4 linked regions of the Homo sapiens genome follow. The protein of the gene in region 2 purifies or fractionates together with the protein of the main gene of each other region. This does not show direct contact. Each region holds a gene or a part of one and is shown on either strand. Other genes may lie near its edges. The genes, in order: ING3, JAZF1, EPC2 and MBTD1.

Evidence for each region.
Region 1: the proteins of JAZF1 (region 2) and ING3 purify together in Homo sapiens (co-immunoprecipitation; 2 studies listed by BioGRID and IntAct, with this or other methods). This does not show direct contact.
Region 3: the proteins of JAZF1 (region 2) and EPC2 purify together in Homo sapiens (affinity purification with mass spectrometry; 2 studies listed by BioGRID and IntAct, with this or other methods). This does not show direct contact.
Region 4: the proteins of JAZF1 (region 2) and MBTD1 purify together in Homo sapiens (affinity purification with mass spectrometry; 2 studies listed by BioGRID and IntAct, with this or other methods). This does not show direct contact.

Annotation. Positions count from the first base shown.
Region 1 is NC_000007.14:120,953,663-120,960,815, reverse strand, and holds part of ING3 (inhibitor of growth protein 3), read right to left. Parts: intron 5,258-7,153; coding exon 5,192-5,257; intron 4,657-5,191; coding exon of another isoform or gene 4,645-4,656; exon of another isoform or gene 3,836-4,644; intron 1-3,835. UniProt on the Homo sapiens protein: Component of the NuA4 histone acetyltransferase (HAT) complex which is involved in transcriptional activation of select genes principally by acetylation of nucleosomal histones H4 and H2A.
Region 2 is NC_000007.14:28,177,730-28,185,849, reverse strand, and holds the start of JAZF1 (juxtaposed with another zinc finger protein 1), read left to right. Parts: upstream 1-5,054; 5' UTR 5,055-5,272; coding exon 5,273-5,387; exon of another isoform or gene 5,388-5,393; intron 5,394-5,959; exon of another isoform or gene 5,960-6,020; intron 6,021-8,120. UniProt on the Homo sapiens protein: Acts as a transcriptional corepressor of orphan nuclear receptor NR2C2. Inhibits expression of the gluconeogenesis enzyme PCK2 through inhibition of NR2C2 activity.
Region 3 is NC_000002.12:148,640,013-148,647,825, reverse strand, and holds the start of EPC2 (enhancer of polycomb homolog 2), read right to left. Parts: upstream 3,076-7,813; 5' UTR 2,809-3,075; coding exon 2,656-2,808; intron 1-2,655. UniProt on the Homo sapiens protein: May play a role in transcription or DNA repair.
Region 4 is NC_000017.11:51,257,023-51,264,972, reverse strand, and holds the start of MBTD1 (MBT domain-containing protein 1), read left to right. Parts: upstream 1-4,923; 5' UTR 4,924-5,117; coding exon of another isoform or gene 5,118-5,138; exon of another isoform or gene 5,139-5,174; intron 5,175-5,766; 5' UTR 5,767-5,830; intron 5,831-7,950. Other genes in the region: UTP18 (U3 small nucleolar RNA-associated protein 18 homolog), read right to left, coding at 1,587-1,699, 4,047-4,388. UniProt on the Homo sapiens protein: Chromatin reader component of the NuA4 histone acetyltransferase complex, a multiprotein complex involved in transcriptional activation of select genes principally by acetylation of nucleosomal histones H4 and H2A.

The sequences.
Region 1 (7,153 bases), about 93 Mb from region 2:
TATCATGCTTCTAGAACAAAACTATTTTAACAGGATAGATTTTTGTGTGTGTTAGTCAAATTTCACTAAAACGGCTACTAAAATAAACTGTCAGTTTCTTCTACCGGAACCCTAAAACAAATTTCTTCATTGATAATATGTTGATAATATGTAGTTTGGTTTATTCCTTAATAAATGAGGTGACCAGTGCAGTGATGGTCACAGGAAAAAAAATGTTTACTACTGGTTTAAAAGTAAATAAAATATTTCAATGAAAAAATACAACAAAATGCAACGCCATATAAAACACTGAGGGATAAAATCAAACATAATTGCATACTATGGTGATGTACCATAAATTCTGTAAAAGTAATACATGCTTATTTAAAATTCCTATAATATAATGTTTAAGCAAAGGCATACCTACACAAAATCTCTTTTAAGGTCTATATTCCACGCCTCTGTTTAAAGTCCTTCACTGGCTTCCCACCGCTTTAGACTAAGAATCACTCTCCTCCTAGACTGGCTCGCAAGGCCCCCATGCATTAGCTCCTGCCTGCTTCCTTTCATGCTGCTCCTTTCCCATTACAGACCACAGACCAACCACCCCGGCCTCTCTCTTGGTTCAACTTGCCAAGTCTTTTCCACTCCAAACTTTGCCCTTGGTATACCACGTGCCTGAAACATTCTTTCCTTAGCTTTTCCAACAGGTGGTTCTTTCTTATTTTCCAAGTACCACCTCAAACGTCATCTCCTTAGACTACATTCTTAACAGCCTTCGCCAGTTATTCAATTGTCTCTCCCTTTCTCCCCCTTCCTCTCTTTCTACAATGTTTATTTCCTCCTGTGTACTTATCGAAATCTAAAATAGTCTTTATTTAATAGTTTGCCAGGCCAGGTGTGGTGGCTCACGCCTGTAATCCCAGCACTTTGGGAGGCCGAGGCGGGCGGATCACGAGGTCAGGAGTTCGAGACCATCCTGGCTAACACGGTGAAACCCCGTCTCTACTAAAAATACAAAAAATTAGCCGGGCGTGGTGGTGGGCGCCTGTAATCCCAGCTACTCGGGAGGCTGAGGCAGGAGAATGGCATGAACCCAAGAGGCGGAGCTTGCAGTGAGCCGGGATAGCGCCACTGCAGTCCAGCTTGGGCGAAAGAGTGAGACTCCGTCTCAAAAAAAAAAAAAAAAAAAAAAAAAAAAAAAAATGTGAGGAAGTGACAAGGAGTATAGGGTGACTTTCAGTGCCCTAATCTGAATGACTACAAGGTCAGTGTGGTTCATGTGAGATTTAGAAACAAAAAGTTGGTGATGGGGCAGGGGAGGGTAGTTAGAGAAGAAAAAGGAGATGCTTTGAGTTTTAAATTTCAAAACACTGAGTTCTAGGGCCTGGGAATAGTCAGCTAAGATTAAAAGACTCAAAGAAACAGCTTGGGCTTCAGGAATAATTAACGTATAATTGTTAACACTAAGAGAACACATGGAATTGCAATAGAGGAGTGTCTCTCAACTTGGGTGGTGTGCAAAGGTTGGGGATAAAACTTGCATTTGAAAGAACAGGTCTTTACGCTGTGGAATTTGTTCTTCCTGGCCCTCTTGGCAGGTAGAAGAGGGGAAGACAATCACCTTCATGTGAGAACCACTTGAAGAGTAAGAAACCATGTAGGTCAAGGACAGAACCCTGAGGAACACCATCATTATGAGCTGTACCCAAGAAGGAGACTAAGAAAGGTCACAAAGGTGGGAGCATCTAGAGCAGGCAGTCACATGGTAATACAAGGTCAAGAATGGCAAGACAAAACGAATGGCAATAAGCATTAAATTTACCAATAGGGTCAGTTAAAAAGAATTGAAGCTGTCTGATGAATTTAGCAATAAAGAATTCATTAAATGAAGTTATAGAGGATTAGTAAATAGAACCCCAATTGCCATAAATTTAGGAATAAATTGAAGGTAAGGGAGTGTCAAAGAGTCTGAATGAGAAATTAAGGAAGACTACACTAGCTAAAGCAGAGTCACGGTCACGACACGATTTATATTAGATTGCCTGAGTTCTTTTTAAATATGAGGAAGACCTGAGCATGTTTAAATGCTGTGGTATAGAAGCCAATAGAAAGAAAAGAGGCTAAAGATGAAAAAGAGAAGGCATAAGTGATGAAGCAAAGATGCAGCAAGTAAAAACATGCCCTAAGGCAGCAACAATGTGGAAGGTACCTGTAAGAAAAGTGGTCAAGAGCTCAACCAGTCTCTTGATTGAATAGGAAAGGGCTGATAAAATAGGAGGAAGTGTAGACGCAAGAAGTATCAGAGGCAGGGCAATTCCAAGTGATGATCAGGTTCAGTCTGTGGCGACTGAAGTGGATTAGCATTTACAAAAGCCAAAGAAGTAGATGACTAGGTAGTATAAGATGATTGCAACAGAGAACTGTGAACCGGGTACCAGTTTTTCAATCTGAGCCTCACCTAGAAGCCATTAAATTATAGTGATAAGAGGCAGAGGGTAACTGAGATGATTATCACTAAGTCTGAAAGAGAAGGGATTTTTTATATTAAGGATATAATGTTCACCTGAAATAGGATTAAAGTATTTAAAAAGAAAGGCAGGGAAGGAGAAAGGGAAAAAGAAAAAAAATAATAAAAAGGAAGAGGGTAGAGCAAAGGTGGGGGCAGAAAAGAAAGGGTGGGGGAAGAAAAAGAAGAAAAGACAAAAAGAAGCCTCAGAGATACTAGGAGAGTGAGAGACAGCAGCTTCCACTTGGCAGAGTTGAAAGGGAAGCAGTGGCTTCAGGAAAATAGAAAATTCCAGTTCAGGAAATGAGATGGACTGAGTTCTTAAAGAAGGAGCAAATCCTACTATCTGCCAAACTAATAGCATTGTATGTATTCTAATGCAAACCCTTCAGTAAGGTATAAATTAATATTGCTTTTTTACAGCAGGAAACTGTGGTTCAAGATTAAATAACTTTTCCAAAGTCATGGTGTCAGTGAAATGGCTGAGCTAGGGTTTGAACTCACATCTGCATGGATCCATTATGGACACTTGCTTTCTGTTGTATTTCTTATGCTTTATTAAATTTACTACCTCGCCTTTATTACTTCACTCTTTAGCCTTGGAATCTATCCCTTCTCAATTAATTTCTGAATTTGTACTTTCCTTCTGTTTATGCCATTATCTCTGAGTGAAATGCTTTCCCCTCAATACAATACCTAATTCAGGACCTTGACTTTCTAAACAAACTCTGTTCAAAACTCTTCCTATACCCTCTAAGAAATCAGTAAGTAACTCTGCATGACTTACTTCAATGTTTTTCAGTAGACACCCCTTAATATTCAACTGGTTAATGTTTATTACATGTTTCTGTATGGATTCTCCACTTTAGTTTGCAGGTATGTCTGCCCCACAACAGTAGTTTACAGACACCTTGAGGACAAGAGCCATTTCTAGTATTACTTTTTTTTTTTTTTTTAAGACAGAGTCGCTCTCTGTCGCCCAGGCTGGAGTGCAGTGGCGCGATCTCTGCTCACTGCAAGCTCCGCCTCCCGGGTTCCCGCCATTCTCCTGTCTCGGCCTCCCGAGTAGCTGGAACTACAGGCACCCGCCACCAGGCCCGGCTAATATTTTTGTATTTTTAGTAGAGATGGGGTTTCACCATGTTAGCCAGGATGGTCGCGATCTCCTGATCTCGTGATCTACTCTCCTCGGCCTCCCAAAGTGCTGGGATTACAGGCGTGAGCCACTGCGCCCGGCCTAGTATTTACTTTTTATTCCTCCATTAGACCCAGGTACAGCTCCCTTTTTTCAGGCACAGAGTGGATGAACAGTGTGGTTTTTAAATAAGAGATGAATACACACACACACATATTTAAAAAGCATATATTTATGTTATATTTTTTCTAAATACACAAAATATCTTTAGTAAAGGTCTAACAAGCAATAAAACAACAAAATAATAAACAAAACAAAGAATAGAACCAAAGAGCTATATGAATTAAAAAGCAGGCAGTCTCTAAATAAGGACTGATACATACAGTCATTGAATATGAGGAAGAATGTTACTAAACAAATTAGTCTAGATTCAAATGTAAATGCCTTTTTCTAAGTTTATAGACATAATTAAAGACTGAAACAATTAAGACCTTTTTTTTTTTGGTTTTTATTCCACAGTAAATCAAGCTACAGCCTATTCTACCTATCTTTAGGCAGTGTCTTTTATGAAATTTTTTTCAGAATAACTCTATGAACAAAAGAGCCCAGGTTGTTAGCACCATTAAAATGTGTGTACTACATAAAAACAACTAGACATTTTCCATGGCTCTACATGACACATTTTCAAGTTTGTGGTATAAGCATTTACAATTCACACCATATGTGGTGTTCACCTTTTATCTTGTGTCCTGCTCACCAATGACATTTTACTTACACGTACTTGTTCAGTAATAAATCTGTACCCAGGAAAGACAACATAAGTATGAAATCTATACACTGAAGTTAGCCAAAAGTGAGCATGTGTTTTCTGCTTTAATTTACTTTAATGCAAAAACAGAAATGACTATTTCTTAAAGTGTATATTTTAGGAGAAGATGTTTCAAATGAAAAAGAGCACCACAATTGCATCAATATGAGAAATAGTGAATATTCTATCTATCTTCTTGGTGTTTTCAATCTTTTAGAAGTGCTGCTGCAAAAAAAGAATCTTGTTTAAAGTTTGTCATCTTGTATTGCTTAAACAACTGACACAGCTGTTACATACGATCTTTTAACATCACTCACATAAACACTGATTCAAATGATTCTTCTTCATTTTAATCAGACTACCAAGAACTCTTGTCAAAGCAGTCTTCTTAGGTGTATTTTACCACAGAAACAATCTCAAAATGATGTATAAGGCAAGTAAACACACTACCTTAAGAAGACAAGGATTAGTAAAATAAAGTTAAACATTAATTCTTGTTTAAAAAATATCTAACATCAGAAACCACCTTACCGCCGTATAGACTTGCTAAAATGTACAGTTCTCACCACATTAACTAACCACTCTGACTTTTCCACAAAGAAACCATAAAATGGACACTGAAATGTCAAATTAGATGTGATCAAGAGAGCAATACTTCAGTTTTAGTTGCTTCTTCCTACTACATTTAAGCCAATACAATTTAAGATATAATCTGTTATTCAAGTACTTATGGCACAGTATGCACATTACTTTTACTTACCAAGTCATATATCTGGTTTGCCAACTGAACCTTCTCATCTGCATCTTCCAAAGCTTTATAGTAGTCCTGAATGAAAACATTTTCATTTCAAAAATAAATTAATCATTTTAAAATATTCATATGCAGGACATACAACTGCATTTTCATTATCATATCTTGTTATCACAGTCATCCTACCTTAGTAATAAAAAACCTGTTAGAGGCCAGGGGCAGTGGCTCACGCCTGTAATCCCTTTTGGAGGCCAAGGAGGACGGATGACTTGAGGTCAGGAGTTTGGGACCAGCCTGGCCAACATGACAAAACCTCATCTCTACTAAAAATACAAAAATTAGCCGGGCATGGTAGTGGGCGCCTGTAATCCCAGCTACTCAGGAGGTTGAGGCACAAGAAGTGCTTGAACCGGGAGCCAGAGGTTGCAGTGAGCCGAGATTGGGCCACTGCACTCCAGCTTGGACAACAGAGCGAGACTCTGTCTCAAAAAAACAAAAAACAAAACAAAACAAAAACCTGTTAGAAATAGGGTGGGGATGGTATAGGATTAGAAACTATGCACAATGGCCAAGAGTAAAAGGGAGATGTTCAGAATTTCTAGAAAGGATATAATTAAAAGTAAATGCCATTGTAAGTCTAGAAAAAGCTATATGAGTTAATGAACAGTATTTAAAATAAAAAGTTAACTAAAATTGATCTAACTTGTAAAGTACATTTGCATTCCATTAAAAAATTTTTGTTAAAGTTCAGCTATTGAAAGGATTCTGATCTGCATTTCCCCATTTTCCAGTTGTTCTATAACTCCCACTTTAAATTAGGTATATATTCATACAACTCAATCTGTATTTTAGATTTTGCCTCAACTTATTAAATTTTTTTTTAAAAAAGAGGGGGAAAGAAGATGATACTATGAATTTCCATGGAGTACTAGACTTTTCAGGGTATACTTAAGGTGCACTCCACAGGTTAAAGAAATGATTAGTGACTCTGGGATGTGGATATAACATGTCTTTACTCACAAACACATGTCCCTCCAGGTATCTTCCAAGCTAGGACCACTTCTGTTATAGATTATGATTTTTTTTTTTCCTAAGAGAAACAATCTTCCCTCCATGTGGTAGAATAAATAACATATCATAACAGAACTACTCAATTTGTAGTTTCCAAATTTCTTCCTTAGTGGACCCTTTTTTTTTTTTGAGACGGAGTCTCACTCTGTCACTCTGTTGCCCAGGCTGTAGTGCAGTGGCGCGATCTAGGCTCACTGCAACCTCCACCTCCTGGGTTCAAGTGATTCTCCTGTCTCAGTCTCTCGAGTAGCTGGGATCACAGGCGCCCACCACCACGCCCAGCTAATTTTTGTATTTTTAGTAGAGACGAGGTTTCACCAGGTTGGCCAGGCTGGTCTCGAACTCCTGACCTCAGGTGATCCACCCGCCTCAGCCTCTCAAAGTGCTAGGATTATGGGTGTGAGCCACCACGCCAGGCCTCTTAGTTGATCCTTGAACAATTCTATGAACATTGGGTTTAGGAAGGCATTATTATTCAGAAATATTAAGATTTAATGTCACACAGCTAAATAGCAGAATCATGACCAAACTCAAGTCTTTTAAGTTGTTTTTCCAATGTATCCATCCCTAAATGAACTCAATCATACTTTCAAAGCAAACTTTGAGATGTACGTGTATACTCATTCAATTCTGGAAGACAGCTATAGCCACTATAAAACTAACAAAACCTCAAAGAATTCTATGTTTCCAGACCAATTCGTGTGCAAATTTAGAGTTTAAACTAGAAGGCTTTCTTAAATTCCTTCTAACTTTTAAGATTTCGTTCTTCTGTGGGTCCACTAATTTAAGTACCTAGCAATATATAAAATATTCTTCAAGGTCTGCTCATGTTTATTTACCTAGTTTGTGGCCAAAACTGGAATACAGTACTCTATCTCAACTAGAATAAAACAAACTAAT
Region 2 (8,120 bases):
ACAGGCTACACAATATTTGCAAAGAAAGGCAAGGTGGTTTTTGTTGAACAAGTGAGCGCATTTTGAAAACTAAATGACAGCATGCGGTGGCTCATACCTGTAATCCCAGCACTTTGGGAGGCCAAGGTGGTTGAGTCCAGGACTGCGAGTCCAGCCTGGGCAAATGGCAAAACTCCATCTCTATAAAAAAATACAAAAAATTAGCTGGGCATGGTGGCGTGCACCTGTAATCCCAGCTACCCAGGAAGCTGAAATGGGAGGATCGCTTGACTCCAGGAGGTCGAGGCTGCAGTGAGCCGTGATCGTGCCACTGTACTCCAGCCTGGGCAACAGAGTGAGATCTTATCTTAAAAAAAAAAAAAAAAAAAAAAAAAGAAGAAGAAGAAAGAAAACTAAAATGATTTGGTACATCTTGAACTGTCAGTACATGTGGGGAAACTGTAGGAGGTAAGGCTGGGATCAATTTTGGTCACTGAAAAGCAGGAAGCCTATTCTGGTAGTGAAAGTTACCACTAAGACATTCTAGCAGGGGAGATGAGATCATGGAGTATTCCCAATTTGATCTTCTAGTCCAATCTCCAGTGATACTTGTCTGAGTCCAGAGGAAACGGACTGCAATAGTGTGAGCTGGTAAAACCTCAAAAAGCTAGAACAAAAAACGTGCTAGTAGCCTTTGAAGTTATAGAAATCCTCAAGACTGTGCATTGCTGGGTGAGAATCAGTGACGTCTAAAAACACATCTTTGGGCAAAAAAGGCTGTGCAGTCTTTTACAAGCATTAGTGGCCTTAGTGGCTCCATTACAGTCAACAGCAACTGAAGTTATCATCTGAGTGAGCCAAAGCTGGAAAGAAGGGAAATAATAGATACCAGAGCAGCCAAGAGGGTAGTACACGGAGTCCAACCAAGCCACCCCTAGCAGGCCCTTAGAATAGATTGAGGAGGACTTTGCAAAGCACCTAGTGCTCTCTCACGTGAGGAGAGACTGGGCTTGTCTTATTCAAATTGTATCCCTCATATCTTGCGCAGTGGAACAGGACTGCAAGGCTGCACAGATCCCAGGGTCACTGTTCATGCAGTTGCCTATATAAATAGAGCCTTCTGGAGTTGTGTAACAGGAGCTTTGCATAGATGTTCAATCAAGATAGGTTAAAGGCAAAAATGAAACAGTAATTGCTTAGCTGCTTCTGTTAACATTATTCTAAAACTCAGGTTGGGGTGGCCTGAGCAGCAGTGGCTCCCATCAGATTTGGGTTTGGAGTTATCATCTGGGTAGTAGTGTGGCACATAATGTAGTGGAATGGATCCAGGATGCTCAATTAGAACTGCAGTGATTGGGTGGGTGTTTTACTACTTTAGTTCTGGAAAAGTCCTTCAAGGAACTGGAAATAAATGCCAAAACTACGTATACAGTCAGTAGGCAGGAGCAGCCAGGTGGAGAGCTAGGGGCTAACACTCATGAGGTCACTGGTGGCAACTAATAAGAATACCCCCATTACTCATTCTAAGGCTAGCTCTTAATCCTAGGCAAAATGAGACTGAGGGACAAAATGAGAATTAATCACCAGAGAGCAGATAAAGCTGATTCATTTCTGAGCTGGAATAAAATAAATACAGAAAACTTGGTTACATAAATATTAAACAATAAAACCTGGAATAGAAATCATCCTCCTTAGAAGAAGATGGAGCCTAAAAAGAAGGCATCCCTTTGAGCCCAAGGTTGCTGTTGGTGGAAGTGGCAGCCTTAGCATTCAAGAGCCAGGGAACATCAGACATTGTAAGCGTCCACAGACTTGCATGAGCTGAAGAAGACCAAGGTTCATGATCTGCTCCTTCGACACAGTGGTGACAATAGAAGAAATATCTAGTAAACCTGAAAAGCACCTCAAGAGGGACCTGGAAAACAATCTAAAAAGCCAGAGAAAGCTACAGTTGAAGGCAGTATAGAGTTAGATTCAAGATAGAATCTAATGTTCATATAGATCCTCTTGCATCATTAACAGATGTCCACACAGGACACAGGAAGTGCACGGTTTTGATTATCAGTGTATGCCAAAATAAACCAATTCCTGTATGTGGAGGACAGACAGCTGTATGAAGCAGGATCCTCAGTGTCTTCAGTTGGCTCCATTAGACCAGTGGATTCACACCTTCCGGCAGCTGCCCCATCTCGAGGGCACTGGACATGCTGGATTTGGGGAGACTGTTATGCGATCTCAAACCATTTGTAATGCTAAGTACCATATTATGGGGCCACTGCACATCCATACTTTGTGCCTATACATTGGGAGGCACTGGGCTCTGGGGAGAGACAGATGGTTTTCAAGAAAAGGCTCTTAAACCCAGAGAATGCTTCTTGTCTACAGCCACTGTCATATCATTCTGACTTCTCAGTTCCCTCACTTTCCCTCTCCTTTCAAATATTTTTACTTTCCAAATCAGACAGATGTTTTTTGCCAGTACAGAGGTATATCAGTCATCACCTTCTCTCTCGGATGTAATAAGTTGAATTGTTTGTTTTATATATTTTTGTAGCTTAGATGTTGACTTTATCTAAAGGGATATCCTGGAAACAAACATTTTAAAAATATAAGTACAGAAAGGTAAGCATGCTATTAGCAATTTTTAAAAAACTTTGCCTGTGGTTACTATCTATATATAATTTGTCCTTCTATTGTCTATCAATGCCTTCTAAATGCACCATGAGTACAGAGAAAAAAACTGTCTGTGTGCACCTGGGAGAACTTGCTTGATGCCCCGGCCTCAGTTTACCACATCTCCAAAACCAGTGGTTCTGACAGCCAGAGTATCTTCCAGGTCTAAGAGATCACAATCATGTATCTTATATAAAGACCGGAAATGCCTAGAGTGTACAGATTTTTAAAAAGTAGTATGAGCAGAACATCACATAAACAAAGCTTCAGTCACATATGAAGAAGTAGTAGGGTGGATTATTTTCAGGCAAAATGAACTGATTCCTTACAAAACAGTAATAATTATCCAAGGTAGAGAAAATAATTTTGTCTTAAAAACCAATATCTTGATTTACTTTGGAAGTTATTTTAGCTCACTTCATTTTTTAAAAAATCTATTTTTTTCAATTTGGTCTAGCAAGGTTTTATTTTAGGAATAGTGAAACTGACAGGAGGTAGTAGAAAGCCATGCATTAGTGAAACCCAGGCCCCTTACTTCCTTCATCTTTCACCTGCACATTTCTGGCACTTCCCATCTCGGAACTCTCTTGCCTGAACCACCTCTCCACACTCTTGGGAGTTAATAACTCCACGTAGACAATTTTTCCTCTGGAGGACAGAACTGCTACTTCTTCAAAGCTTTTGGGGCTCCCAGATGCTGCATAGTGGGGGTGCCTAACATTCATCTCTAAGGGTGGCTGTTTTGGCATCATTTTTGGCTGAAGTTTTGTATTGCATTTCCATGTCATTTGGTGTGGTGTGTGCCTGCCAGATATTCTGCCTGCTCTCAGCTGAAGGCCTTCCCAGATTGGGCAGCTGAATGTACTGCACAGCTGCCAAAATTCTAATTCAAGATCTAGAATTCTAACTCCTGCTCTTTAGACCCTTGTCTGGCCTTGGCCTCAGTCCCCTGCCAACTCGGTCCCTGGCTCATTATCAGGCCCACCAGGGCCCTGCCCCCACCCTCATTGGGCCCATGAAACCATTCTTGGCACCAAACTGAACTTCAAGACACAGCTGCCCCAGCCCCACCCAAGCCGAATCTCATCTCAGCAAGTTTGTCACCTTGTGAGCTGCAAGACAGAAGAGATGAGAAGAGAAAATGCCACCGGTGATGGTCAGATCATAAAACTTCCTGTAGCAACAGACATATTACATGTGCCTTTACTCTAAGCACTTACATGAAAAGCAAACAATCCCATTATTAGAAATAACACTAGACAGAGATGCATAGAGTTTATGGAGGGAGGAATACTATTTCTCCATGCATCTGCACCAGAGGGTAAGTGAAATTTGCCCTAAGGAAAAATGCTAAATTCAGTATGCATATATTAATATTAATAAAAAAAATGTACTGTTGGGTCATAAACTGCTGATAATGTGTAATATTTCTTAGACACCTGGAAAAGTGCTACTGGAAAATACACACTTTACAGAAGAAATATGACTGCAACTGGAGGAGGGGGTGGGGACAAGAAAGTAATTGATTCTCAGCAAAATGCTGGTTTTCAGGGAAGCTACTAAATTCACCTTAAGTGGTTACCTGGTCAACATTATGCTTTAAATGCTCACAGGATGAAATCGCTTCCTTTTTAAATGAAGAGTCACTATGTCCCTTGCCGTTGTTTCCGCTCCTTCTAGCCTTAACCAATGCACTGTCCTTTCTGCAGTGGCTGAAACGAGGATGGGTTAATTACCAGACCTGAGATGGTGGAGTGGGTGCAGTAGGGTGCTGTAATTTCGGGTGATGAAATTATTTTAGTTTTTGTTTTCCTAGAAGGAGCAGGGAGTATAAAAAACGTGGCACATATGTAAAACACAGGCAAATGCACTTGACAACCAAGCACTCTATTTTGAAATTTAAATAAAGCTAAGATTTTTTTCTGGCCTAGAGGGAAAGCTTCATTAAAATCAATTAGTTAGTACAAACCTCCGGAGAATGTGTACTTTTTCTAAAGAAGGTTTAAAGAAGAAGGTGCACACAATTACCTTTCCTGGGTCCCCTGTGAATGTGTCACACCTAGACAGGTGGCTGAGTACAAAAAAATGTCCCTGAGAGGGACCAGGGTAACTCCCTGAGTTCTCCTCGCAGGGAGGTAGGTGTAATTAATCGATGTGGGTGTATTAAGAACGTCATATACATAACCAAGGAGGCTCCAAACAGATGGCACGGATGGCAAGCCGTAAAGGGCAGGCCTAGCGAGATAAAGTTGGTGGCAGGGCTCGCAGGTGAGGCCTGGGTCCGCGCGCTGAGGTTGGGGCCGCACAGCTGTAGCCGCGCGCCCTGGTCCCTCCTCCCAGCTGCGGCGGCCTTCCCCCCCCGCCCCCGCCCCCGCCCTCCCCCCGCCGCTCCCGACGCCGCCGCCGCAGCCGCCGCCTCCCCTCTGCCTCCCGGTGGCTCCTCGCTCTCCTTCCATCTCTCTCGCCCCCTCTCCCTCCGTCCCGTCCTCGCCGCTCCCCTCACCCCGCCTCTCTCCCCCTCCCCCAGCCCCTCCTCTCCTCACCCCACCCGGCCTCCCTCCCTCCCTCGCCCGCCCGGCGCTCGCAGAGCCGACACCAGGGGGGCTCTCGATGTAGCACCATGACAGGCATCGCCGCCGCCTCCTTCTTCTCCAATACCTGCCGATTCGGGGGCTGCGGACTCCACTTCCCCACCCTGGCCGACCTCATCGAGCACATCGAGGACAACCACATCGGTAAATGGCCCGGGGGTGGGCGGGGGTGCCAGGCGCGCGGAAACTCCTGCCCGGGCGGGGAGCCCCGGAATGGCCAGGGGTGGCCGGCGGGGAGGGAGGCGGCAGGGCGGGGAGGGCGCGTGCGAGCCCCGAGGTGGGGGTGGCGGGATGCGGGGGCGCGAGGTGCCGGGGGGCGGGGAGCGGGCTCGGGTGGGGGAGGGGGCGGGCGCCCCGAGGTGCCGCGGGCGGGCGGGCGGGCGGCTGGGGGACTCAGGGGCGTGCACGCGGGCTGCGAAGTGGTGGGAGCGGGGAGCGCCGCGGCGGGGCGGCGGGGTTGCGGCGGCGGGGCCGAGTGCCGGCGCGCGGGGCGCGGGGCGGAGGGCGCGGCGGGCGGCGGGAGCTGGGCGCTGGGCAGGGTCGCGGAGTTAGTTGGCCCGGGTGGTCGGAGTAGCCCGAGGCGCTGAGGGCAGCGGGGGGCGGGCGCTGCACGCCGCCGGGCGCTTCCGCCCCGGCTCGAGCTGTCAGGGCTCGGCGGCGGCTGCAGCCGCGGGGAGGTGGAGCGGGGGGGCGGGGGTGGCTCCACCGCGGCAGCCATTCCGCTTCCTCCTCCCGCCGCCGCCGCCGCCACTGCGTCCTGTCAGCGCCGGTTGCTAGGTGTGGTGCGTCGGGAGGGGGCCGGGGCCGGCGGCCGCGGGCGGGGGCCGGGGAGCTTGCCCTCTCCCTGGGAGGCGGCCGAGGGGCCCGGGCGGGGCCGGGGACGCGGGCCCGGGGGCTCTGGGTGCCCTCCCCTGCCCCGGCCTGGCGCGGACGCCCGGGCGCTGCGGGCTGAGGTCTTGGGTGCGCCCGCGGGCCGCGCCCAGCGCCCCGGGGTCGACGCGCCCTGGAGGCCCCTGCGGCGGCGCCCGCTGGAGAGACACCCCCAGGGCCCATGGCCGGGCATTTAAATGCACCCCGGCTCTGCGATTTGCCTTTCTAATGGTGCTAGGCCCGAGGTGCGCTGGCTGCGCCCTGGGATCGGCGGCGGCCTGCGCAGCGCCCCGGGCCCGGGAGACGCCGGGGAGGGGGCGCCCCGCAGGGTGGCTGCTTTCCCTTCACGCCTGGACCCCTGGACCTTTCAACAAGTCCTCTGATTTGCAGAAGTCATTGCACACATTTTCACACTTCTATTCGGAACCCCTGCTAAGGGAGGTGGGCCGGGTGCATCTGGCTTAGGCGGTCCAACCACCTGCGGAAGGTGTGACCGACGCCAGCGAGTTGTCCTGCGTGGGCTAGAAGGTGAAGGGTCCGAGCGATGTCCCAATGGGGCTGTCTAATCCAGAGAACCTGTAAATTGCCCCCAGGAAGTCCAAATGAATGCCATGGATTCAGCCATGTGGATGCAGCTCACGTTTCTACAAAGTTGAGAGAATAAATCACGACTGCTGTGTATTTATGCAGGAATAAAATGAGGCAGAACCCTATGCTCCTTTGCTTAGTATAGTGCTGTCTCTGCACACAGTGGCTGCTTAATAAGTGTTGAATGCCTGTTTAGAATGTGATTTGATGGGCCATCCGGAATAGGAGATAATCATGGGAAACGTCTACAAAATGTCTTTCAGAGGAAAATGCTGTTGAGTAATTGTCCAGGTTTTGAAACTTTTCAAGTTTTCAGGCGTCCTTGTAATAGCTTCTTCCATTTCCTCTGCTAAAGGTATGACAGAAGAGCTGGGCAAGTTTTGGTAGTCTTAAAAGCAGTTTAATGGAGCAACCAATTTGCTGATTCATATCATGATTGAATAGTCATAACTGAAAGTGCTTGAAAGTATTAAATCAGATTTTTCATGATGGCTAGTTTAAAATAAAGCGAAAACACCGGTACTGTGAAGTTCTGGTAGAAATGTTACTAGTTCAAGTTCTTCCCCTTACTCCCAATAATAAGTAAAAAATAAATATAGATAATGCTATACATTAATATGTATGATATAAGTAATATAAATAAATAATTTCTCTTGACTTACAGAAGGCTGTCATTGCATATCCCATCCATTCTCGCTAACAGTTATTTCAGAATAAACTATAATTTATATAAGCTGAGTAATAATTTTACCCCATTGCCTACCTACTTAGACAAGCTGGTTAAAAGACAGTATAAATTATATTTATTAAAATGTGTTAAAGACAGTTATCCTTCTTGAGGATTTAGTTTGAGATGGTTTAAAACTTGGTGAATCATGAGGTTTTTTTTTTAAGTGTAGAAATTGTCTTAATATTTTGCACACATTTTTAAAGAAGGTTAAGAGTTTGATACGTTTTCTAAAACTCAGCTTTGAAGTAATGCTACCTCATTCCCAGAAGGCTAGTGTTGTCCTTTTAATAGTGAAAATGTGGAAAAATTAAGTTTACAGCAATAGCAGTGACCTAGGTGAACTGTGTTGCAGGGCTAACACAGTTGAAAACAGTTTGAACCAGCAAACTTTATGAAAAGCAAATGTTAAAATGAACAAACACTTGCAATTCCCAGGATGAAGAGGCTCAAACTATTATACACTTCTGCTGGGGAGAGGCCCTTTACTATCAAAGGCAGCCCTATATGCAGAAAGAAGAACTGATCTTAAGAAGAATAAAAATATCCCAATTAGTAGATAGTGTCATATAAATACACTTCTGATGAAAAGACATGGGTGAAAATATAAAGCATTTAGTCAAAGTTCTAGACAGGTATTGTTATGTGGTATTTATCGTTTTTGATTCAATCTATAAGTATTTGGAGACCGT
Region 3 (7,813 bases), on a different chromosome or scaffold from region 2:
CCTCGTCTCTACTAAAAATACAAAAATTAGCTGGGCATAGTGGCACGTGCCTGTAGTCCCAACTACTTGAGAGGCTGAGGCAGGAGAATCACTTGAACCCGGGAGGCGAAGGTTGCAGTGAGCTGAGATCGCGCCACTGCACTCCAGCCTGGCGACAGAGCTAGACTCGGTAATAAATTAAAAAAAAAAAAAAAAAAAAAAAAAAAGTCTGCAAGGCGCGGCCAGGCGCAGTGGCTCACACCTGTAATCCCAGAAATTTGGGAGGCCGAGGCGGGTGATCACCTGAGGTCAGGAGTCTGAGACCAGCCTGGCCAATATGGTGAAACCCCGACTCTACTAAAAATACAAAAATTAGCTGGGCGAGGTAGTGGGCGCCTATAATCTCAGCTGCTCGGGAGGCTGAGGCAGGAAAATCACCTGAACCTGGTAGGCGGAGGTTGCAGTGAGCCGAGATCGCGCCATTGCAATCAAGCCTGGGCGACAAGAGCTAAACTCCATCTCAAAAAACAAATAAACAAAAAATTGCAACACGAGTTAAGCACTTTTATTTTTAATGAAGCATGAAAAAATTACTCTAAGTTATCTTACTAAATTAAAATACCAAAACATATGTGGCATACTAAGGACCACGTATGTTGGTGATTGCAAAAAGTAATATACCTTCCAGGAGTTAACTGTTCACTCTAGAACAGATTTCCTTTTTTTTGTTGTTGGGGGGGACGGAGTCTCGCTCTGTCCCCCAGGCTGGAGTGCAGTGGCACGATCTCTGCTCACTGCAACCTCTTTCTCCCGGGTTCAAGCAATTCTTCTGCCTCAGCCTCCCGAGTAGCTGGTATTACAGGCGCGCACCACCAGGCCCGGCTAATTTTTGTATTTTTAGTGGAGACGGAGTTTCACCATACTGGCCAGGCTGGTCTCGAACTCCTGACCTCATGATCCGCCCACCTCGGCCTTCCAAAGTGCTGGGATTACAGGCGTGACCCACCGTGCCCGGCCTAGAACAGATTTGACTCAAGTTCTAAAATAATAGGATCAAAGTAATTACACACAATACTGGTACTTTTAAGGCCATCTTTCTTTGGATCAAGACCCACAAAATAGCAAAAATATCCAAAGTTGTGCTTATTAGGGTTCAATGTAATTAACTATTGTATATAATATGATTTTATTTTAATTTTCCTTCCCATGGAAAACTGAGTCGTTAGAAACAAATTAAAAAAAAAAGTTCTCACATACAAAAAAAAAAGTTCTCACAGCTCTAAACCTTAGGGATAAATGCTGGGTTTTGATTATAAACATATTTATATATATGCACACACAAATATATATGTGTATGTGCGTGTATATATATCTATTACATATTTGTGTGTGTACACACACAGTTAAGTTCATCCCGATGCTACGGCCATATGCATTTTCTACTGAAAATGTAAGACTTTCAAGTAACTATACATCAAAGAGAAATGTGATTAAATAAGAGCAAAGTAGTATTAACAGGGTAACATAATGAGGTCAGAACTCAACCAGCCAATCGAAGGCATAAAAGCATTTCCTGCAATATTAATAGTCAAAAGAGAAAACCAATCACTGAAACCTCGAGCTTCCTTTTGACAGTCACTGAAGCAAGAGAACCAATCCACACACACCCGAGGTTGACAATAAGGCGGGACTGTAGGTTCATTGAAGAAATTCTTGAGGGTGCAGTTACTATGAACTTCGCACGCAAGTAACACCACTCGAGTCATAAACACTCTCTGTCAAGCCAGATGAAATCCAACCGTCTGCAAAATTTAACCCATCGGAGGAAAAGCAGCAATTTTCCCAAAAGGTGCTGTATTATCAAAATTACAACTGCCAATTTAGATGCACTAGGTCCTCAACTTCTAAGGACCACCTCGCAATGACAATTCTCGAGGACAACGCAACGCCGGCGGCTCGCTTCCGGGCATCCCCGGCTCCTCTCTAACGTTGCGCACGGAGCACGGCCGTCCAGGCGGAGCAGGCAGAGCCCGTCCGCCCCGCGCCCGGCTCGGGTCGGCAGAACTGGCCGGCGGGCGGCCCTCGGACGCTACGACCCGCTCGGTAGTCGTGGCCCCCGCCCTCCCCCGCCGCAGTGCTGCACCGCCTCATCCCGCTGCACCTTCGCGGGCGGGGGAGCCAGGATGATTACATTGCTGGGAGGAAGATGTTTGTTTTGAAAGCACCCTTCCACAGTCATTTCAAAGAGAACTCAATACAAAGCCAAAGTTAAAAGTGGAAAAAATAATAATCTTGCCTAGCCAAATAATACCACGCCATTAATTAGCCCCGCGCCTGAGAGAGGGAGGTGGAAAGGTAAACAGAGACCGTACGCCAAGAGCGGCCAGCGCATCCCCTGCGCCATTCCCGGCCGCCGCTTACGGCAAGGCCCCCTTACGGCAGCGTAAGCAGCGCTGCGAGCTAATCACAACACTGGGACGCAACAACATGGCGGCCGCGGGCGGGCGCTACGCCGGCCGAGAGGGTTTACGCTACTCCGCCGGCGTAGAGTCCCGTGCGTTAGAGCGGCAGCGGCGCCCTCCAGCGAGCGTAAAGCGCTCTGTGAATGGCGAGGCCCGACTGACAAAGGGGAGGGGGGAGGAGGGAAGGGGGGGTAATAAACACTCGAGTCCCTACCGATTCCTCCTCCTTCTCCATCCCGGTGGGCATCTGGGGCACGGCCCGGTTGATGGAGACGCAGTCGTTGAGATCAGGCATGTCCTTGCCGCGGTAGATAGGCAGCGGCTTGGCGGCGTCCAGCGCCCGCGCTCGGAAGGAGAGTTTACTCATTGTCTCCCCGCCTTACAGGAACAGCCCGGGCGGCGGCGGCGGGGCGGGCGGGGAGGGGGGGAGGACTCCCGCCGCCTCCTCCACCTCCTTCCTCAGTGCAGCGCGGCCGGCCCGCTCCTCCTCCTCCTCACTGCCCCCGGCCACAGCATGGGCGCCCACCCCGCCCGAAAACAGCCCCCCGCGCCCGCGGCCGCCTCCACACACTAGATCCGCCGCTCGCCCGCCCGATCCGCTCCCTGCGCCATGGCCAACATGGCGGACATTACCACAGCGGCGGCGAGCGATCCCGGCAGCCCGCGCGAGAGCGCGCCCCCGTCGCGGGAACGCGCCTCGCCCTCTCCCTCCCTCCCTCCTTCCTCTCCCTTCCCCTCCCTCGCCTGCCCACCCACTCTCTCCGCGGCGCTGCCGGCCCGCGGGAGCGTGCTCGGTCTCGGTCCGCTCCGGGGAGAGGGGGCGGGGGCGGCGCCCCTCCGCTCGCTGGCCGGTGCTTTCGCTGTGTGGCAGGTGCCAGGTGCGCAAGTTCGCCCGCGCCCGGGAGCGTGCGCCTCTCCCGCCGCCGCCCGGTCACCCCTCTCGCTGGGTGTCCCGGAGGAAGGCGCCGGGCAAAGACGGCTGCGCCGAGCAGCGCGTGTGTGCAGAAGTCCGGGAGCGGGAAGGGAAAATGTCGACCCGGACCCCACCAGCCATCACCCAAGCCTGTACTTGGACAGCGCTATCCCCAAGGCGCCCTGTGCGCAAGCTAATTCGCATCCTCCGAGGCGCACATCCCCGAGAGGTGCAAGAGGTCTCTCCCATCAGTCCCATCAGTCCGTTCGGAGGACTGGACCGCGCTGCTGGTGCCAGCCCTCTTCTACGCCCTCCCCTCCGTACCTGTCCGAAAGAGCTCTCCAAGGTGCAGCAGCGCGTTCATCCTCGCTTTGCAGTGAGGGTTCATGGTTTGAGGCTGCCAGATGCAACAAGTGAACTTAGGTTCCCTGTCACCCAAACTTCGGTACAGCTGTTTAGTGGATGGTAGGTATTTTTCTGAGTTCAAAAATAGTAGCTTTCCTAAAAGTTCAGCTTCTAAAAATTTAGCCAAGGCAGCACACATTTGCGAAGTAGCAGATGTGTGTCAAATGTGGGGTGCTGTGGAAGACTCGAAGAAATCTGAGAAAAGGTTCCTGCCTCAGAGAGCTTTCACCTTAATGGGATGCCAGGATGGCTGGAAAGATGAGTAACAGAGACGTAAATAGTTGAAGAAAATGACAGCTGGAAAGATAAGTGACAACCGAAAAAAAAGTGTAAATATTTTAAGAAAACAATACAAGAGATGACACAGGCAGTAAGTAGCACATGATTAATTACCAAACGAGATCTAGGCAATAATTGTGAGAGTTCAGAGAAAGGAAAGGAGGCATGACTGCAGCCTAAACTGGTTAGAGAAAGTTCTCAAGAGGAGGGAAAATCAAGGTGACTCAAATAAGTACTAGCTATTGTTGACATCAACCTGGTTTAGCCAAGAGGCTCTTGGTTAGTCTTTAAGCATTACACATTTCTCACAAAACCGTACAAAGAGAGTTTTTAACACATTTTACCATTTTCTAATAATCGATCATACTCTAACTCAGAGAAAGTCAGATGATTTCCTAAAGACCAACAGTGAAAAAATTGATTCCTACTGTCATTTCTATGTGACAATAAAACTATATCTCTTCCTCTATTACGTCCTTCTTCCCCTCCTCCACTTCCTCCCCTCCCCCTTTTTCCTCCTGTTCCTCTTCCCCTTTTCTCTCTGCAGTCTCCTCCTTTGAAGGCAGAATGGTGGATATAGTCTTCATGGTAGTGTCCAAATAGTCTAACCAGTCTGTCGCAGCAAAACTCCGAGTATTGTTTAGTGGGGCTTGAGTGTTTTTCATCCACTTTGTTGTTGGAAGCAATGGAGTTGCTGTGACTCATTTCTTGTAAGCAGTACCTTCCTCAAGCTTATGGGCATGTCCTGCTCTCTAAGTGCTACCCCTGGAACAGTTCCAATCCTCTGGAAGCAAGAACAAGAAGTTCTTGGGAGGGGGTCAGCACTGGGTTCAAGCCTGAAAGGGAAGAAAAAAGCAATAGTTGAAGAAATGAGTCATCCAGAGCTTTCATCTGGATGCCCAGCCCTCCTCAGGTTCAGAAAGGATAGCTTTCTTCTAGTCCCTATGTTTAGTTTTACTGTTTCTCTCAGAAAAGGAAATATCAAGTATGTGTAATATACCATCCATTGTAGTAACATGTTATATATATTATCTCAACTAGTTGAATTCCACTTAATTCTTATTATAATTTTATGAAAAAATATAATTTTACCAATAAGAAAACTGAGCATCAGATAATTTGCCAAATTTCAATTCCAACAACTTGCAGAACTGGGCTCAAATTCAGGTCTGACCTGACTCCAAAACTCTGGTTTTCTCAGTGGTGCTACCCTGCTATCCAAGCTCTTCAGCTTATTGACCAGTCAGCATTCTAAAGCTGCTAATTCAAAATTAGTTACTAAGACCTTCCAACCAACGGCCAAGGGAGCGCATAAGCCAGAGCCTAAAGTTGCAGTAGACCAAGGAGGGCAGGAACAACATCTGTCTGTCAATCACTGTATCCCCAGTTCCATGCCTCACATATGGCAGGCATCTAAAGTATATTTGTTGACTGATATTCCATGAAGAAATTCACTGATACTGACCCCATGCCACTCTAGTTTATAGTTCACATACCTCACTGGCCTGTCACCTGACCTAGCTATTGCTGCCAATATTTGTTCTTACTGTGGCCTACCCTGTTGTCCAGCTTTGTACCTTTGTGCATAGAGATTTTAGAACCAATTAATGTTATTCAAAAACACCTTTTTGAAACCTGGAATTTATAGGAAGGGATTTTTGCTGTTGTGGTTGTTTCTTTGTTGTTCTTTTACTTTGACCATGTAAAAGATTTCTTCCCCAAATCTCCATTTTCTTCTCACCCTGTAGGCAATGATTATAGAGCTGGGAATAAAACCATTTAAGGCAAATAACACAATATACTTTTCAACGGAGACACAGCCTGTGTTTTCTTGGCTTCCAATTCAGTGCCCAAACCGGAATGCCACTGTTCACTTTTGGAAAGTAACTTTTATTTGTATATAAATATTACTTTTCATAAAGTTTATTTCTGATTGATTTGTTGAATACTCATATAATTGTTAGTGCTAAAAGCAAAAAATATCTTCTTATAAAATAAAAAATTCTCTCATGAAATATTTTTATCAAGACCTGCCTCAAATGGGTGTGCAGCCTAATAGCCTATTTTAATTTCCACATACAATGCGCTAAGTATAGTCATTCTAAAATCAGTCCACTTCAGATATGCTCTAGACCAATTCCAAATGACATGCATTTAGCCCAGCAAGCATAATATATAAGCACCCAAGAATTAAAACCAGTTTAAAGCCATATCAAAATAAAATCACTGTCTAAATGTAGTCTAAATTAGAATAAATGTCAAATAACTGTTAGAATTAGGATTACATTCCAGTGTCCATCTCCCAGTACTATAATCAAGGCAGGCAGCTTCCAAATAATGGACAAATTACTTTTTGAAAGGAATCTTAAAACTAGTAAACACAGTTGCTATTCAACTATTTCAGAGTTTTGCAAATGTCACGTTCTTTCTAATTGGCTCCTGGTTTCAGCAAAACCATTTGAAAGTTAATTGGGTTAGTATGTGAACTGCATCTCCACCCCTCCCCCTTATGTTCCCAGGAATGAGCCTAGTACTAATAAAGCTTCGTTGTTTTCCATATGTAATCTGAATGTGGGGTCTGCATTCATTACAATCAACTGGAATCAGTTCTGTGGTTCCAGTGCCCTTTTCTGAGGCAGCTCTGCATCTTTGAGACATAGGGACAGAGACTACACTGAGAGGTGACCTGCCAAACATCTACTTCTACCTCTGCATTTGCCACCGTGGGAATAGCAGATGGTAAATAAAAATTTGTGACTGTGGCTCAGTTTCTTAGCAGCATCGCTCCTCTCAGACCTGGTTGGAATCACAGGGTGCCACCTTGTGTATAAGCTGACGATTTACTTCCCAGCTCCACAAAGGATCCAAATAGACTCCAAAATAATCAGCCTGAAAGCTCTGCATTTTGGTAACTAAAAAAAAAAGAAACAGATTTGAAAACACACAGCTCCAGAGGGTCCACAACACCCAATTTTGAATTGCACTGACAGCCTGTCTCATTTGTTGCCCCACCCGGACCGTAAAACACAACCAGTGCTCCACATTTGGAATAGATTGACGCTGCTCACTCAGGCTTTTGGATGGGGATAAGAGAAATAAGTAAAGCTCTTGTGATGAAGCTAACAAATCTGACTTGGACAGTTATGTGTGTCCAAACAGCAAGCAAGCTATGTAGATGTAATTTCAGGATTTTTTTTTTCTTTCTTTTTTTTTTTTTTTTTTTTGAGATGGAGTCTCTGTCACCCAGGCTGGAGTGCAGTGGTGCAATCTTGGCTCACTGCAACCTCTGCTTCCTGGGTTCAAGCAATTCTCCTGCCTCAGCCTCCTGAGTAGCTGAGATTACAGGCACATGCCACCACGCCTGGCTAATTTTTGTATTTTTAGTAGAGACAGGGTTTTGCCATGTTGGTCAGGCTGGTCTTGAACTCCTGACCTCATGATCTGCCTGCCTCAGCCTCCCAAAGTGCTGGGATTACAGGAGTGAGCCACCGTACCTGGCCTGGACTTTGGATTTTTGAGAGGCACTAGGTTCCATTGAGCTGATGAATATGAGCCTACTTGTTTTAATAAAATAAGTAAAATAATTATTTTTAAAAATAAGTACTTATTTTAATAAAATTGGATGATAGTGAGGTTTTAAAAATGACCGAGTTTGGAACAGAAATACAATTGTTGGAGCAAGGCCACGGGAGGTTAAAAAATAGGATCCTTTCCAATCCAGCTACCTTGCCCTTGAGAAATTCCACACTTGGAGGAAACCCACTCTAAATTCAGC
Region 4 (7,950 bases), on a different chromosome or scaffold from region 2:
GGTTGCTCATGTCTGTAACCCCAGCACTTTAGGAGGCCGAGGCAAACAGGTCACTTGAGGTCAACAGTTCGAGACCAGCCTGGCCAACATGGTAAAACCCCGTCTCTACTAAAAATACAAAAATTAGCTGGGCATGGTGACATGTGCCTGTAGTCCCAGCTACTTGGGAGGCTGAAGCAGGAGAATCGCTTGAACCTGGGAGGCGGAGGTTGCAGTGAGCCAAGATCGCGCCACTGAACTCCAGCCTGGATGAAAGGATGAGAGTCTCAAAAAAAAAAAAAAGAAGACAATGACTAAACACAAAAACACTTCCTCAAAACAAACTAGGTAGAGATATTACCCACTACCAAACTGACAGAGTCTGGAAAAAAAAAACAAATAAACCATTGTGTCTAAGAATGGACTGAAACTGACACCTTTCAATGGGAAGGCAAACTGGTAGAGCCCCATAGCATGCAGTCTGGCAGTACTTATCAAGAACCTTAAAAATAACTGTGCTCTTTGATTAAGTAATTCTACCTCAAAGAATCTTTCTTAAGGCAATAAATTAGAAAATAAAGAAAGGTTTATACATAAAGAGGTGATAAACATTAATGCTGAAATAATCTGCATTAAAGGGAAAAATAAGGCTGGGCACAGCAGTTCACGCCTGTAATCTCAGCACTTTGGGAGGCAGAGACGGGTGTATACTTGAGGTCAGGAGTTCAAGACCAGCCTGGCCAACGTAGCAAAACTCCGTCTAACTCTGTCTCTACTAAAAATACAAAAATTAGCCAGGTGTGGTGGCACACGCCTGTAGTCACAGCTACTCGGGAGGCTGAGGCAGGAGAATCGCTTGAACCCAGGAGGCAGAGGTTGCAGTGAACCAAGATCGCACCACTGCACTCCAGCCTAGGTGAAACAGCAAGACTCTGTTTCAAAAAAAATAATTAAAAAAAAAAAAAGGGAAAAAGAAAATCTACCCAACAATAGCCACGTAAATTATGGTTAATTCACATAATTGACTCCAACATAGCCATTTTAAAATGTCTATTTTTTTTAAGTAGGGAGAAATGTTTACAAAGTAACTTTATGTAGAAAAAGTCAAAATGTTAAATCAAGCATACAGTACATTCTCATCCATGACAGTTCCTATGGTGTGAGCTACCTTCTTTTTAGCCTTTACTCAGTTTCAGGCACTGTGCTAAAAGTTCTACAAGTACTATTTTGTTTAATCCCAACAAAATTCTGATGTAGTTACTATCATTGTGCCCATTTCACAAAGGAAAAAATGTAGGTTCCAAACTGCCCATGGTCAATTAGAAACTGGCCAAAAGAGGAGGCAAATCGAGATCTGACTTCAAACACTGTATTCTCTTAGCTACTGTATACAGCAAAGAGGAGACTGAGACAGAAGTGTGACAACATGCTAACAGCAGTTCTCCCTCGGTGGTGGGATCAGGAACCATGAAAGATCTTTTCTATACTTTCAAATATTTTTCAAATCTTCACATAATCACAAATTGGTAAAAAGAATGATTTTAAAATCTGCAAAATAACTTTTTTAAGTGTACAGAGGGATTCAGAAGAAAAGTTAGGCAACTTACATTTCCTCATCTTCATCTTCTTCATCCACCCAAACTGGCTTCTTTTGAGGTGGAAAATTACCTTTTGCTTCATTCTCCACTTCTGAGTCACCCGAGTCTTCATGTTCTTGAACCTACAGCAGACAAAACACCCTCAAGCACTGAGATTTTCCTATCCCATGACTGCAGACACATAGGCCTTACAGCCAAATGGCTCATAGAATGTTTTTTCTACCACTCTCTGATGAAATAATGGGATGGAATGCTACCATTGCAAATGCTGGAAGCAGAGGCAGAAAATGGAGAAATCAGAGAATGGCACCGACTGGACAGGTGAGGCAAGATGGAACAGTCAAGGAGAAAAAGTCAACACTCAACACGCAGGAAGGAAAACACCAAGTAAGACAAGAACAAAAGATGAGTCTGCAGATGAAAAAAGGAGGAGAAATGTCAGAACTACAGAAATTACAGGACCGGAGGCAAACTAGAGTCAAAGATATCTCCATTTTCCCAATCTGTTTTTGACCCCCTACCTCCTTAAGAAACTTTATACCAGCAGAGAGCGCAATGCCTCATGCCTGTAATCCCAACACTTTGGGAGGTCAAGGTGGGAGGACTGCTTGGGCCCAGGAGTTCGAGTCCAGCCTGGGCAACATAGGGAGATCTCGTCTCTACAGAAAATTTTTAAATTTAGCTGGGTGTGTGGTGTGCACCTGTGGCCCCAGCTAACTACTTGGGAGGCAGAGGCAGGAGGATCACTTGAGCCTAGGAGGATGAAGCTGACTTCTGAGTTTAAAGTGTTCGGAGAATTGTGCAGGTGTAATTTATCTGTGACCAACAAGAAGAGCAACCAGTTACTATTAGCAAAAGGGAGATGGAAGACTAATAGGTGCCGCTACACTCCAGTCTGGGTGACAAAGTTAGACCGTATCTCTAAATAAGTAAAAAATAAATATACCATTAAATCTAAATTCTAAAGTTATAAATTTATACCATAAAGTTTATACTATCAAATCTAAACCTAGGCCGGGTGCGGTGGCTCACACTTGTAGTCTCAGCACTTTGGGAGGCCGAGGCGGGCGGATCACGAGGTCAGGAGTTTGAGACCAGCCTGGCGAAGATGGTGAAACCCCGTTTCTACTAAAGATACAAAAAAAAATTAGCCAGGCGTGGTGGCGCACGCCTGTAATGCCAGCTACTCCAGAGGCTGAGGCAGGAGAATCGCTTGAACCCAGGAAGTGGAGGTTGCAGTGAGCCGAGATGGCGCCACTGCACTCCAGCCTGGGCGACAGGGCGAGTCTAAAAAAAAAAAAAAATCTAAACCTAGACCACAGAATATCCCTTGAAGTGAGTTTGAGCTTCCCAAAACCAATGATAGAAATGTCCAAGTGGTTTCTACTTGCTCTACTACTAGTCTAATAGCCTTCAAACCCAACAGCTCCCACCTCCGTACACTGTTCCTTTTCCAGACGACAAAACCGTCGCACAGTTCAGCATGTTTCCAGTAATAGTTCTGTACTTCCCAAAAAGATTGCTGCCACTTCTCCTACAAGCACCCGAAGGCGGCTCTGGTAAGCAGCTGACATTAACTAGGTCAGCATTTGTGTAATAAACATGGCCTGGGTAATTCTCGGTGAGCTTTCCTCTGCCCCCTTTATCTAAAATTTCACAGGCCTCTACACACGCCCATCTCCCTTTCCCGAATGTCCTTTTTTCTCTTCAGCACTTGTCACCAACAAACCTGAAGTTTACTCGTTTATCTCCTCTATCTTGTCTCTGCCACTAGCACACAAGCGCCAAAAGGCAGGGATTTTTGTCAGTTTTGTCCATTGCTGTGTCTCCTCCAGTGCCTAGAACAATGTCCGGGACTCTCTCAAGAAAAGCCTGGTATAGAATTTAAAGGGATAGCAAAATGTGTGCAAAAAGTATGATCAATCACGCAGGGTTTGCCATTGCCAGAAAGGGTATCTGGCAACTAACAGGTTCACCAATATTTGCTAAATGAACGGAATACACGATCATTCTCAAAACATGGTGGGTCTCATAGTCACATGGGGACATAGTTACAACGGAGATGCCCAGGCCCGTGCCCACGAATTGATTCCATCAACGAAATCGAATTCCTGAATCACAAGGAACTGAGGCAGGTGATCAAAAGACCACCCTCAGTTTGGGAAGAGGCTAGCGGAGTCGAGCAGCAGCGAAAGATGCTCACGACCACAGTTCGCAAAGCAGATACCCGAGCAGCGGCGCCTCCAGGGGCGGAGAAAGACGCGGTCCCCGCCCTCCAGGCACTTTCAGTCTGGAGCAGGGAGGCGAGGGACCCGCAGCTGCGACCCTCCGCGCCCGCGTTCTCGGGCTCCCTCCCACCTGAGCGCTCCCCGCCGCCGCAGGTCGCCCAGGCTCCGCCCCCCGGAGCTTCACCGCCCACCGCGCGCCCCGCCCGAGTGCGCCCAGCCCGCGCGCCGCGGCCTCCCTCACCCTCGGGCCTCGCAGACGCCGCAGCAACGCGTCCTCGTCGTTCTCGACGTCGCCGAAGACCAGCTCCTCCAAGCACCGCTCCACGGCCGGTTTGTCCTCCTCCAGCCTCAGGCGGTTCCGCTGCCGGAGCCGTCTCTCTTCCTCCGCCGCCGCGACTGCAATCGCAGCGGCCGCCGCGCTCGGCCGGGCCGGCGGTTTCCGCTGGGATGAAGGGGCAGGCTTTTGGGGAGGCCCGCCTGGCCCCGCTCCGGCTTTCCAGTCCGGCCTCATTCCGGGCTTCCGCTTCGGCTTCGCTCCGGTTCTCCGGTCCAGTTTCATTCGTCTCCTCCGCTCCGGCGGCATCGTTAGGTTTGAGGAGAAACGCAGGCGCTCACGTGGAACCTCGCTGCGCATGCGCCCAGGCCCCTCGCGGGCCGCCGCCGCCGAAGCCCCGGGGGCCGGAAGGAGCCTGCGCAGCCTCTTGCCACGTGACCAGCACTCCCTCCCTCTACGTAACTCCCGCTCCCCTACCCAGCCCCGCCCCGTGTGGGAGTTCCTCCGGGAGGGCCAATCTTCCGGGTGTAGGGGGAAGCGGCGTGACTGGAGTGGAAAATTTTTCCAACACAATTTCGCAGCTGCAACATATTGAAAGGAGCGCAAGAAACCCCGACTATACACTGGGACGGCTGAATGGAACTTCTGCTTTTCCTCTTGGCTGTAACCACTTGACTTGACACAAGCCCCAATACGCTTTCCACCCTTCGTCTTGGTACGGTCCTTGGAGTACGGAGCCTGCAGAGGGTCCCACGGTGGAAGCGAGAGAGGAGGGTATGTAGGGAAGTGGGCCAATCGGGGCGCGGGTCACGGCGCAGGCGCGCTGGGGAGGGAGGGCTATGCTAATGTTGTTGATATCCTGGGGCCACCCGAGTTAAAGGGGGGAAATCCGGGGGCTGCTGCACCCGCCACCGGTCTGGGCCCAGCCGGGGGCCCCCTGTAGTCGCCGCAGTCCCGGGGAGAGGCACCTGCCCCCAGCCCGGGGAGGGGGCGCCGCGGGCTCGGGGAGCACGGACAACCCCTACCCATGAGGCCCTGATGGAAAACACAAAGGATCTGGTGAGAGCCGAGCGCGGCAGCCGCTTTGTGTGCCAGGTGGGGGGGACGCCTGCAGCTCTCCGACCCCAGGAACCCCGCAGCTCCCTGACCCCGCTCCCTGGCCTGCTTCTCCATCCCACGCCCTCTCAACCTCCGGAGCCCCCCTCCCCCTTCCAGCCGTTAAACGATTCAGGGGTTCCCCTCCCCCCACCCCGTCAGCCTTGGACTCGTTGGGGTTCTCTCCATCTCCTCCACCCTTTGGAAGAAAAATTCGAGAAGAAAGTTTTTCTCTGCGTCCTGCCCCCGCCCCCTGCTCTGGCTAGGGGGGAAAGGCTGGATCCGAGACTTTTCCTTTTTTAGCCACCCAGGGTGGGAGAGTGGAGTAGTCCTCTCTTCTTGGCGGGGAGGGGGAGCACAGTTTCGTTGCTTTGCAGGGGAAGGTGTCTATCTGCCTTGGGGGCAGTGCCGCGAGGCGGTTTGCACGTGGAGGTGGAAATATTGAAAGGGGGCGGGGTGGGCACGTGCGGGAGAGGTGGGAGTGGTGTTTGGGAAGCAGCCTCCAAGGCTGCATATTTAAAAGGGTTTCAAGTCGGTGGACTTCTGTGACCATTGCGTTCTCCTTTGTGAAATAAGAATCCTAACATTTCAGAGTCGGAAGAGACATTAGAGGTCATCCAAAGCAGCCGTCCCCTCTGCAGCCTCTCTGACAAGTGGTAGGTAGTCTGAACCCTGCTTACACCCCTAAAAGCACTGAGAGCTCACTACTGCCCAGGAAAGCCCATATTTCAGTAGTTCTAATTGTTGTCTGCCTACCCTTATTAGACCCTTCAGTCTCATTCATGTCCTGGTTAAGTTGCTCCTTTTTTTACTTCTCAAATTTTCTCTCACATCCTCCTCACCCACCCACTGCTCATTGGCCTATATTTTGTGTGCCAAGAAAGAACAGCAGGGAAGTGGAGGAAGGGGGGTTGAGAGATAGTGAGGGCTAGCCGAAAACTTTGCTGGGTCAGTGTCAAGTGTGCTGGCTTACATGCCTGAAGATGTTTTTCTACAGGAAGCTAAAGAATTACAATATGGGAATTTCGTGCCTGTTTTCTCTTAGGAGTGCATCTTTTTGAAGTTAGAAATTTCAGCGTCATCTCCGTGGTTCTTGTATCACAAAACACATTTGTTTATTACCTAAATCACTTCTAAGGATGTCTAAAACTGAAGTGGTTAGAAGCATCACCTGGTAGAGGGATGATTAGATGATTACCGCCCACACCCGTATTTGACCTGTGTTCCTCGGAAGCTAGTCTTTCCTCCAAGGGCCTCTCTTCCAAATGCTTTTACTCCTTCTTTTTTTTTTTTAAGTAACTATCTTTTATGAGATTTGAAATTTACGAACCATTTTAATACTTGTTTAGAGTTTACAATATTTTTAATTCTCCTTATATTAGCATGCACCAGTACTTATCACTGGGTGGTTGAGATAGTTGAAACTATTGTCACTGGGTGTTTTTCTAACATTCTCCTTCATTTGGTGAGCTATGCTGCCTCTAAAAGTAGTTTTATTGGCCTAAGAATCTTGGATATACCTATTACTCTCTAATGTGGTGAAGTGGGTGTCAAGACATAACAGGTATAATGTAGAAATAATGCATGTGATTTAAAAGCCAGCAAATAAATTTCACCTTAAGCCCCAGTCTCCTATTTAAAAGGTTAGACTCAATTTTTCTCTCCTCCTCTTATAACTTAGAGACTGTTGCTTTGCTCTTGTGGACTTAGACTGTTATTTTATTTTTCATTTGTTTACCTCAACACCAGAGTGTTTAGAAAGAAAATAGCTGTACTTTTTTTTTTTTTTTGCACCACCTCCTTCTCTGAATAACAAGTAGCTTCTATCTATCTAAAACCCCATACTGATTGCTTGTGAGTACCTTGCAAATTATGGCAACATCTGTCTTGAATAAGTATTTATTCATAGTGCCTTACGTTGTTGCGTCATGCTTTTTAACCATCCAGTTTCTAACTTTATGTAATGTTTGACATAAAATATTTCCTCTAAATCTACTCATTAGAATTCAGCTTGTGAAAAAGAATCAGTAGAGGTGTAATAATAGTGTTTTTAACATTTTAATTAATAAGGAGTTCCAAGTTTTTTTCCTGCTTACTTTAAACATGAACTGTCATGACTTAAGTTGACTGACTTTGGAGACATCTGCATTCTAAACATACTAGACAGGAACAACTGGTTTTATTTTTAAGACGCTGCCATATTCTTTAAAGCTGGTTATATGTTGACCTTATTATCTAAACCTTTCTAGATGTTCTAGTGCTGCTTTTGGTCCCTCAATAATGTTGAAAATTAAAACAACATTTTAAATTGTTTTCAAATGTAACATAGTGATCAAAGGAAAATATAAGCTATAGTTTAAAAGTGAAAACAACATATTAGGATAAATACTAAACCACTGAATTACTAAAAGCCAAGAGTGCTCAGTAGTCTGAGTAACCACATTCTAAAATTAGACAAGTGACATTCTTTGGGTTGCTCTTTGTTTCTCAGCTTTTCATCTTTAAAATGTTTGCTAAATAAGATATAACCTTTCACACTTATGTATCATTAGTCTGAGGGTTTCAAAATTCAAGAAAGAATAAAAACATCAGGACAATAAAAGAGAAAGGACTTACAATAGTTAAAACAAGCTAAGATATTTCTCCTAACACCACAGTATTCTTAACTGTGCAAGATGACTTTTGATTTCAGGCAAAAATTGCACATAGATTTAATCATTATTTTTTAATAAACCTTGGCTTAAGGATTTTTTTACCTGCAAATTTAGGATTTCTC